2 linked regions of the Homo sapiens genome follow. The protein of the gene in region 1 purifies or fractionates together with the protein of each later gene. This does not show direct contact. Each region holds a gene or a part of one and is shown in the gene's direction. Other genes may lie near its edges.

Region 1 (3,232 bases):
TTTTGCTCTTGTTGTCCAGGCTGGAATTCAGTGGCACGATCTCGGCTCACTGCAACCTCCGCCTCCCAGGTTCAAGCGATTCTCCTGCCTCAGCCTCCAGAGTAGCTAGGATTACAGGCACCCCCCACCATGCCCAGCTAATTTTTTGTACTTTTAGTAGAGCCAGGGTTTCACCATGTTGGCCAGGCTGGTCTCAAACTTCTGACCTCAGGTGATCCACTCGCCTCAGCCTCCCAAAGTGCTGGGATTACAAGCGTGAGCCACCACACCTGGCTTTTTTTTGAGACAAGATCTCACTCTGTCGTCCAGGCTGGAGTGCAGTAGCACGATCTCGGCTCACTGCAACCTCCACCTCCTGGGTTCAAGCGATTCTCCTGCCTCAGCCTCCTGAGTAGCTGGAATTGCTGGCACCCTCCACCACGCCTGGCTAATTTTTGTATTTTCAGTAGAGATGGGGTTTCTCCATGTTGGCCAGGCTGGTCTCAAACTCCTGACCTCAAGTGATACACCCACCTTGGCCTCCCAAAGTGCTGGGATTACAGGTGTGAGCCACCACGCCTGGCCTTTACGCTGTATTCATCTTCTAGGGCTTTGGGCTCAGTTTCTGTTGCCATGGTAACCTTTCCCATTTTTGGTCTTCTCTGGAGACTCAGGGACCCTCTGGCCAGATCCCAGGGGTCACCCATGATGTGAGCCTTGTGGGGTTTTTTGGTGGGAGAGCGCTCATGATCTATGGAAGACCACGAGCACGTCAGAACGCCCCCTACCCCAGCCACCTCCACCCTCTTTCCCAAGGCCTTGAGTGACGGAGGGGACAGAATGGGGTCGGAGGTGGCGAGGGGCCTCCGAAGGCCAGCCCCTTCCTCTCCCTTCACACCCTTCACTCCCCGCTCAGACCCAGGCTTCTGCCCCACGCCCCTCCCCTGGCCCAGCCACCAGCTGACTTCCTCGGCCGGCCCCCTCCCCTCCACTCTGGGATTGGTGCCAGGGTGAGAAGGGGACACTGGCACTGACCGTGTCTGGGAATTCCCGCCCACCGAGGAGCTGAAAGGAGGGGGGGTCCCCGTGTCCCCAAGGAGCCAATAGCAGCCAGGCCTTGCCCTTGGGGGGGTGGTGTATATCTTTCAGGCCAGCACCCCCGAGGCACTGTCTCCTCTCTGCCTGCCTGGCACCAGCCAGACCCTGCTCTGCCCGGGGGGCTCTGAGCCCCCCAGGCATTCCCTTCACTGCATCCCTCTCCATTGGGGGGGTGTCTAAGGACCCTTTCCCCTTGGGCATGGCCCAGCCAGGGGTCTCTGTCAAGTCCCTGGTGTCGTCTTATGAGACCCGAGTGGTGGGGATGGCTCCGGGGCTGCCCCGAAAAAGGGGCTGTGCCTCTTCCCCTTGCTCTCCCCGGGGTGCATCCCCCATCCGAGGGACATCTGGGCCCCCGCCCCACCGGGGCCTGGGAGGCCCTGGGCAGCGGCCTTCAACCCGCAGGGGGATGGACAAAACCCTCCTCTCCCTCATTCTCTACTGTCACAGGTACAGGGGGGTGTGGGCGGGAGGCTGTGGTCCAAGAAACCAGCACCTGGGAAGGCTTCTCCTCTCCTCCCCTCACCTTCCTGTGTCTCTCCAGTGGCTCCGGAAGCCTGGTTGGCATTGACAACAAAATCGAGCAAGCCATGGTAAGAGAAGCCATCTTGGTCCCAGGAGGTCCTGGCCCCCTTAAGCCATCCCTCTGCCCCAGCCCTGTCCTCTTCCTTACCAGGGAACACCAACTCCCAGCTCCTCCGTCCCTCTCCCTGCTGGGCTGCTGGGCATCCTCTGCCCCCTCCTGCCACCACCTCCACCCTTGACTTTGCCCAGCCTCTAGTCTGGCTACTGGTCCCCATCTCTGTCTTTGAGCCCTGACTCTGCCTCTGTCCCTCGTCCTTTTCCCCTGTCCCTTCCCTGCTTTGTCCCTCATCCTCTGGACACTGGGGACTGTCTCCCACCCCAGCCCTCAAGGCACTGGGCAGGGGATGAGGCACCCACCCCGTTGACGCTGTGCCTGTCCCGGGGCCCCCAGGACTTGGTGAAGTCCCACCTCATGTTTGCGGTCCGGGAGGAGGTGGAGGTGCTGAAGGAGCAGATCCGGGAATTGGCGGAGCGGAACGCTGCGCTGGAGCAGGAGAATGGGCTGCTGCGCGCCCTGGCCAGCCCGGAGCAGCTGGCTCAGCTGCCCTCCTCGGGGGTCCCACGGCTTGGGCCCCCTGCGCCCAATGGGCCCTCCGTCTGAGCCTCCCTTCCCTTACAATGTGCCTTTGGGGCTGCCCGGCCTTGCGTCAGCCGCCTGCCCCCTCTTCCTATGCAGCTTTAATGTCCCCGTGTCCCCGGGGTGGGAGTTCAAGGCTCAGTAATGGCCTGGTCCCCCGGCCCCTGCCCCATCTCCTCATCATCCCCAGCCTTGATGGAGGAGGGAGGGCTTCAGGACGGGGCGTCAGAGGGAGCCCCCTCTGGGAGGGAACCAACCCCCACCCTCCCTCCTGGGACCCCCCAGCAGTAGACGGCTTGGGGGAGTCGGAGGCTCCCCGGCAGACACCCCACCCCCATCTTGTTCCCTTGAGGTGCCTCCTCTCCTCTGCCCAGGGGAGGGAGTGTGGACAGTATCTGGAAGTTCTGGGATTCAGGTTGTTATTAAAATAATAATAATAATTAAAAACTCTGAAGAAACTTGAATTTGGAGGTTGACATCTCGTTCGTTGCTTGTGTTCAGACTCAGGGGTCGCGCCTGCCATTTAGGGCTCCCCTGAGATCTTTTGCAGACTGGGGAGGTTTAAAGCGTGGGAGACGGAGGAATTGAGACAGAGGCTGGAGAAGGGAGCCAGCGGTTCGGGTCCTGGGAAGGGGCAAGTGAGGATTGGGGGTGGGGGGGCGTCTGCCCACGTGCTGGGCGGGGGGCTGGGAAACAATAAGGTCTTTGGTGGTTGCCCAAGATCCACCCCTGGCTTCCCAGTGTGTCCCCTCTGCGGGCTGGATCCGGGTGGCTGCTTGGGGGCGGGGCGGGGGGCCCTGAATGGGCCCCTTGTCTCGGGGCTGGGTGTGGGCCAGGCTCCCCGGGCACACGGTGCCCTTGCCAGGCCTGGCCAGCCGCCGTGGCTCCCACCCCCGGCCAGCTGAGGACGGGCCCTGTGGGTGAGCTGGCCCCTCCCTGGCAGCCTGGGCTCCGGTCCCAGGCGGAAGAGTCAGCAGCAATGGAGAAGGACCCCAT
Region 2 (7,036 bases), on another chromosome or scaffold:
TTCTCCTGCCTCAGCCTCCCAAGTAGCTGGGACTACAGGCACCCGCCCAGGCCCAGCTACTTTTTTTGTATTTTTAGTAGAGACAGGGTTTTGCCATGTTGGTCAGGCTGGTCTTGAACTCCCAACCTCAGGTAATCCACCTGCCTCGGCCTCCCAAAGTGCTGGGATTACAGGCATGAGCCACCGCGCCTGACCTATATTCCTCTTCTTTTTTTTTTTTTTTTTTTTTTAAGATAGGGGGTCTTGCTATGTTGCCCAGGGTGGTCTTGAACTTCTGCGCTCAAGCAATCCTCCCACCTCAGCCTCCCAAAGTTCTGGGATTACAGGTGTGTGCCACTGTGCCCCCAGCCTACACATTTTTAAACTATACACGGAGTTCATACTTAGTCAGCTCCACTGGAATGTGAGCTCAGGTGCATGAGGGCAAGGATATTTTCTGCCCTCCCAGGTGCCTAGGACAGGACTGGCTCAGATCAGGCACTTCCTATCTGGGTGTGGCGTGAATGTTTATTGAGAAAGCACAGTTCACACAGGCGCTGGAGGGTGACAGCCCAGATCCCAGCTCTACCACTTCACTTGCTAGGCGCTTCCCTGTGTGCCACGGTTTCCTCCTGGGGCGATGAGGTACCTACCCCACGGGGTGATAAACCTGGGGTAGGGGTAAGGGGGCACCCTCACAGGTGCACTGGAAAATATTTAATGAGCACCTGCTGTGTTCAAGCACACAGCTATGAACAAAAGAGGTAAAAGTCTGCCCTTCTGGAGCTGACTGCCTCAGTGGGGAGACAGCTAATAAATGCATCCATAGCATCGGGTATTGGTAATGGTGATAAAAACAAGAGGAGATGGAGAATGGGGGACATGCTATCTTAGGGTCCTTCAAGGAGACCTCGCTGAGGAAGTGGCAGTTGAAGGGAGGGGAGGGAAGGAGCCTTGTGGGGCTCTGGGGGAAAAGGCTTCCAGGCAGAGGCAACAGCGAGTGCAAAGGCCCTGGGGTGGAGGCACCGTGTTCCAGGGACAGCAAAGAGACCCATGTAGCTGCAGCAGGGAGGGCGAGGGGAAGAGGGTTGGACAGAAAGGGGATGGGTAAGCCAGTCACAGTGACGACAGAGTGTTTCCTGCGGTGCCTCCCAACCCAAGCAGCCTGAAGCCGCAGGTTCCCTTTCTCCCACGTCTTTCCTGGGAATGCCTAGTAACACCGTCATACACTGTCAAGAGTTGGACCTTGAGGGATTGGGGGTGGCGGGTGTGGGGAGAGGCAGCCCATTTCACAGATGGGGAAACTGAGTCTCAGGCAAAGAGATGTGATCAAGGCCACCCAGGTTCTGATCTAGCACAGGGATCCAGAGATTGTTGGTTCCAGAGTTGAGCAAGTCACTTAATCTCTCAAATCTCAAACTCCTGACCTCAAGTGATCCCCCCACTTCTGCCTCCCAAAGTGTTGGGATTACAGGCATGAGCCACCATGCCCAGCAGGCCACTTAATCTCTGTAGACCTTCCTTACTGTACTAACAGCATCTGCACAAATGAGGGAGGTGAGGCCCAGAGAGGTTGAATCACTTACCCAGTGTCACACAGCTGGCTCCACAATTGCTGGACTAAATACCAATTAGCACTTACTGGAGGTCCTCTGTATGCCAGGCACTGTACTAAGCTCCGTAGAAAGGTTTCCATTCCTCATAGCATCCCCTTTGGGTGGACAAACTGAGGCATGAAGAGGTTAGGTAATTTGCTAGGCAGCCTGACTTCAGAAAGGCCTACTACAGAAGCCCTCTCAAGAATCTCCTTCTGGGCCAGCGTGGTGGCTCACACCTGTAAGCACTCTGGGAGGCCGAGGCGGATGGATCTCGTGAAGGGATTCTAAGGGTGGGACTAGGGGCAGGAGTTAGGGAAGGAGTTGAGGCAAAGAGTTCGAGACCAGCCTGGCCAACATGGTGAAACCTCATCACTACTAAAAATACAAAAATTAGCCAGGGGTGGTGGCGTGCACCTAATGGTCACCGTGATTGTCCCGGCCACTCAGGAGGCTGAGGCACGAGAATCGCTTGAACCCGGGAGGCAGAGGTTGCAGTGAGCCGAGATCGCACCACTGCATTCCAGCCTGGGTGACAGAGCGAGCCTCTTAAAAACAAACAAAAAGCAACTCCCGGGTGTGTGTTGGGGGGAAAATGTCAAAACAAACCAAACAAACAAAAACAGTCCCCAACTCCCTAGTTTCCCAGAGATGCCCCCTGCATTCCCAAGCAGCATGGTCACTTTCTGCATGTGACTTCTCACCCCTTCCTCTTCCTTCGCAGCTCCCTGGGGTACATCCCCCTAATGAGGGTGGTGCAATCGGTGCGACACACGACGCGGAAATCCAGCACCACGCTGCGGGAGGGTTGGGTGGTTCATTACAGCAACAAGGACACGCTGGTGAGTGGCCGGGGCGGGGCCGGGTACGGCGGAGCGAAGGCTGGAAGAGGGGCGGCTCAGCTTGAGTAGGCGGGGCTAGGTGGGTGGGGCTGGAGCTAGGCGCGAGCGGGGCCAGTAGTGGGCTGGGCCGTGCTGGAGGCGGGGCTAGAATTAGAAGTGTGGGCTGTAAGGGTGGGACTACGGGCAGGAGTTAGGGAAGACCCGGGGCTCAGGGCAAGGTCAGGGGCGGGGCTAGAGTTAGGGGAGGAGCTTGGCTGGAGGAAGAGGGCTAAGTGGGGGCGAGTCTGGGGTTAGGGCGTGGGGGCTGGGCTAGGGTTAAGGCTAGGGGCGGGGCTGGGGTTAGGGCGTGTGGTGGGGTGGGGTTACGGCGTGGGGTAGGTGCTAGAGTTACGGCGTGCACGTGGTGCTCCAGGCACCTGGAGCCCCAAGCAGCTCCACGGGATAGGGACTGGGCAGGAAAGTCTGGCGGTTCACGTGACTCTTCAAACATCTCTGCAGAGAAAGCGGCACTATTGGCGCCTGGACTGCAAGTGTATCACGCTCTTCCAGAACAACACGACCAACAGATACTATAAGGTAAGCCTCCGGGCTTTCAGCTCCCTCGGACTTCCCGCTGTGCCCACAAACTTTCCCACACCTCCTCCTACCCCCAGTTACTCCAGACAGATCCTGCAAATCACACCCTCTGCCCACCCCCAGCCTCCCTGCTTCCAGCTCATCAGCAAGTGCTGCCCATCCGATTCTGGCCCCACCACTTTCCAGCCAGGGGGACTCCGGGCAGGTTCCCTTACTTCTCAGTGCCTCACGCTTCTCACCTGCAAAATGCCTCAAATGCTAATACTCACCTCAGGGCTGGTGCGAGAATTCAAAGAGCCAATCCACTAAACCAATTGGCTTAAGGCGTGGTATATATTAAGCTCCCAGTAATTCTAAGGCTGTTCTCACTATTCCTTTATTTTTTGTTATTTATTTATTTTTTGAGACAGAGTCTCACTCTGTCGCCCAGCTGGAGTGCAGTGGCGCGATCTCGGCTCACTGCAACCTCCGCTTCCCGGGTTCAAGCGATTCTCCTGCCTCAGCCTCCCACCCTAGGACTACAGGTGAATGCCACCACACCCAGCTAATTTTTGTATTTTTAGTAGAGACGGGGTTTCACCATGTTGGACAGGATGGTCTTGATCTCTTGACCTCATGATCTGCCCCCCTCGGCCTCCCAAAGTGCTGGGATTACAGGCATGAGCCACCGCACCCGGCCTCACTATTTCTTTATAATTAATGTATTGCATTGTGTGCGTATTCGTCACCACCTCCCATGCCCACACTGTGTCCCAGCCACTGTCTTCCACCTGGATGGTTTCAGCCTTCTCCTTGCAGGGTCCTTGCTTCTGACCTCACAACCTCTGTCATTTCCCCCACAGCCAGGGGAGTCTTCATTAAAACCGTCAAACCCCCCAGTGGCTCCCATTGTCTTAGAGTAATAAAACCTGGACTCCAGCTGTTACCTGCCCTGGAGCGTCTTCCTTGAACTTTCCATGGCTGGTTCCTTATCATCTTCCCATTTTGCTCAGACCACACCATCTAAAATGCTGTCCTTGGCCAGGCGTGGTGGCTCACGCCTGTAATCCCAGCGCTTTCAGAGGCCGAGGTGGGCGGATCACTTGAGATCATGAGTTCGAAACCAGCCTGGCCAATATGGTGAAACCTTGTCTGTACTAAAAATACAAAAATTAGCTGGGCATGGTGGCGGGTGCCTATAACCCCAGCTACTTGGGAGGCTGAGGCAGGAGAATTGCTTGAACCTGGGAGGTGGAGGTTGCAGTGAGCTGAGATCGCGTCACTGCACTCCTGCCTGGGCAACAGAGCAAGACTCCATCTCAAAAAAATAAAATAAAATAAAATATAATGCTGTCCTCACCATGCCCCCCCGACGTGTCCATGTCATCACCTGGTTTTATGGGCTGCCTAAGTCATTCATTCTTTCCTCTCTCCTACCTCCCTCCTTCCTCTTTTGACACGTTTCCCACCCCATAGTCCCTGTGCCTTCTGTCCCGCCTGGGTCCCCTCAGCCTCCTTCCTGGTTCTCTGTCTCCATCTCATTCTATTCCATCTGCCCTCCGCACACAAGCGGATGATGCTCAAAAGCCTTCAGTGGCTTCCTAGGGCCCTTGGACAAAGCCCAGGCTCTTCCTTGTGGCCCGCAAAGCCCTGTGTGGCCTCATTTCCTCCATTTATTATCAAACGTTTATTTTTGAGACGGAGTCTCGCTCTGTCACCCAGGCTGGAGTGCAGTGGCGCGATCTTGGCTCACTGCAACCTCCGCCTCCGGGGTTCAAGTGATTCTTCTGCCTCAGCCTCCCAAGTAGCTAGGATTATAGGTGTGCCACCACGCCTGGCTAATTTTTGTATTTTTAGTAGAGATGGGCTTTCACCATGTTGGTCAGGCGGGTCTCGAACTCCTGACTTTGTGATCCGCCTGCCTTGGCCTCCCAAAGTGTTGGGATTACAGGCATGAGCCACCATGCCCAGCCCATTTATTTATTTTGAGACAGGCTCTTGCCCTGTCTCCCAGGTGCAGTGGCATGATCATGGCTCACTGTAACCTCTGCCTCCCTGGCTCAAATGATTCTCCCACCTCCACAGTAGCTGGGATTACAGGTGCGCACCACCACACCTGGCTAGTTTTTTTATTTTTTGTAGAGATGGGGGTCTCATTGTGTTGCTCTGGCTGGTCTCAAACTCCTGGGCTCCAGCGATCTGCCTGCCTTGGCCTCCCAAAGTGCTGGGATTACAGGCTTGTGGCACCATGCCTAATTTTTAAATTTTTTGTAGAGCTGGGGTCTCACTGTGTTGCCCAGGCTGGTCTTGAACTCCTGGGCCATCTGCCCACCTCGGCCTCCCAAAGTGCTGGGAGTACAGGCACGAGCCACCACATCCGGCCATCAAATGTTTATCAAGCTTTTACTATGTCCAGGCACCGCCCATGTGATGGGGATACAGCTTGGCTTTTGAGCATAGCCTTTCCTTAGGGCCTTTGCACATGCTGTTCCCCTACTCCTTGCCAACTGGCTGCTTCTTACCTTTCTGGTCTCTGCTTCAATATCACTTCTGCCAGTAATTAGTATTATTATTATTATTTTTGAGACGGAATCTCACTCTGTCGCCCAGGCTGGAGTGCAGTGGTGCGATCTTGGCTCATTACAACCACCGCCTCCCAGGTGCAAGCGATTTTCCTGCCTCAGCCTCCCGATTAGCTGGGATTACAGGCGCACACCACCACGCCTGGCTAATTTTTGTATTTTCAGTAGAGACGGGATTTTGCCATGTTGGCCAGGCTGGTCTCGAACTCCTGACCTCAAGTGAGCTGCCCACCTCGGCCTTCCAAAGTGTTGGGATTACAGGCATGAGCCACCGCACCTGGCCTCTGCCAGTAATTATAAAAGAACAGTGAGAACAGGCTTAGAATTACTGGGAACTTGTCTGACCACTGTGCAAACCAGGCCCATCCCTATCAACATGGATCCCGTGTATCCTTCTGGGTAAGCACTAGAATTCCAAGGTCTGCCTGGCATCCTCACCTGTGCTGGTTCCACGTCCTGCAGGAAATTCCGCTGTCAGAAATCCTCACGGTGGAGTCCGCCCAGAACTTCAGCCTTGTGCCGCCGGGCACCAACCCACACTGCTTTGAGATCGTCACTGCCAATGCCACCTACTTCGTGGGCGAGATGCCTGGCGGGACTCCGGGTGGGCCAAGTGGGCAGGGGGCTGAGGCCGCCCGGGGCTGGGAGACAGCCATCCGCCAGGCCCTGATGCCCGTCATCCTTCAGGACGCACCCAGCGCCCCAGGCCACGCGCCCCACAGTAAGTCCTCCCACCTCGGGTCCTTGAGAGAATAGATCTAGATGGGTGGGGCACGGTTCTGGGGAATGGAAGGGCCAAAGAGGAAAGTGGGCAATGGTGGGGTTGAGAACGCAGCTTCTGGACTCAGCAGGCCTGGGTTCAAACTCTGTTAATCACTCCTGTTAATCCCAGCGCTTTGGGAAGCCAAGGAGGGAGGATCACTTGAGGCCAGGAGTTCAAGACCAGCCTGGGCAACATAATGAGATTCCATCTCTACAAAAAATAAAAACAATTAGCCAGGTGTGGTGGTGCACACCTGTAGTTCCAGGTACTTGGAAGGCTGAGGCAGGAGAATTGCTTGAGCCTGGGAGTAGTGAGTCATGATTGCATCACTGCACTCCAGTCTGGGTGACAGAGCAAGACTCTGTCTCCAAAACAGAAAAAACAACAACAACAAAAATCCACAACAAATCTCTGTTAAGCTCCTGGCCTGATATGTGGCCCTGGGCATATCACTTCCCCTCCATGAGCCTTGTCCCAGGTGCTGATAAGTCCTCATGCACTTACTGAGTGCCTCCTCTGTGCGGGACAGTGCTGGGGACCCAGTGGTGGCCAGGACAGCCCAAGACCTGCCCTCATGGGGCTCAGAGTCCAGTAGGGCAGAATACCCATCTTCAGAGAGTGACAGTCCAGGGTGGGCAGGGTTGGGACAAGGAAGCTAGGGAGCTAGAGGAGCCCAGAGGGGTACCTGACCCAATCTGGGTATATAGGGGGGCTTCCTGG

Evidence for each region. The genes of interacting proteins can lie anywhere in the genome.
Region 2: the proteins of TSC22D4 (region 1) and PRKD2 purify together in Homo sapiens (affinity purification with mass spectrometry; 4 studies listed by BioGRID and IntAct, with this or other methods). This does not show direct contact.

What each region holds. Positions count from the first base shown.
Region 1 is NC_000007.14:100,465,987-100,469,218, reverse strand, and holds the end of TSC22D4 (TSC22 domain family protein 4), read left to right. Parts: intron 1-1,618; coding exon 1,619-1,667; intron 1,668-2,050; coding exon 2,051-2,260; 3' UTR 2,261-2,700; downstream 2,701-3,232. Other genes in the region: TSC22D4-C7ORF61 (uncharacterized protein LOC122198330), read left to right, coding at 1,619-1,667.
Region 2 is NC_000019.10:46,693,113-46,700,148, reverse strand, and holds part of PRKD2 (serine/threonine-protein kinase D2), read left to right. Parts: intron 1-2,298; coding exon 2,299-2,416; intron 2,417-2,914; coding exon 2,915-2,992; intron 2,993-6,015; coding exon 6,016-6,274; intron 6,275-7,036.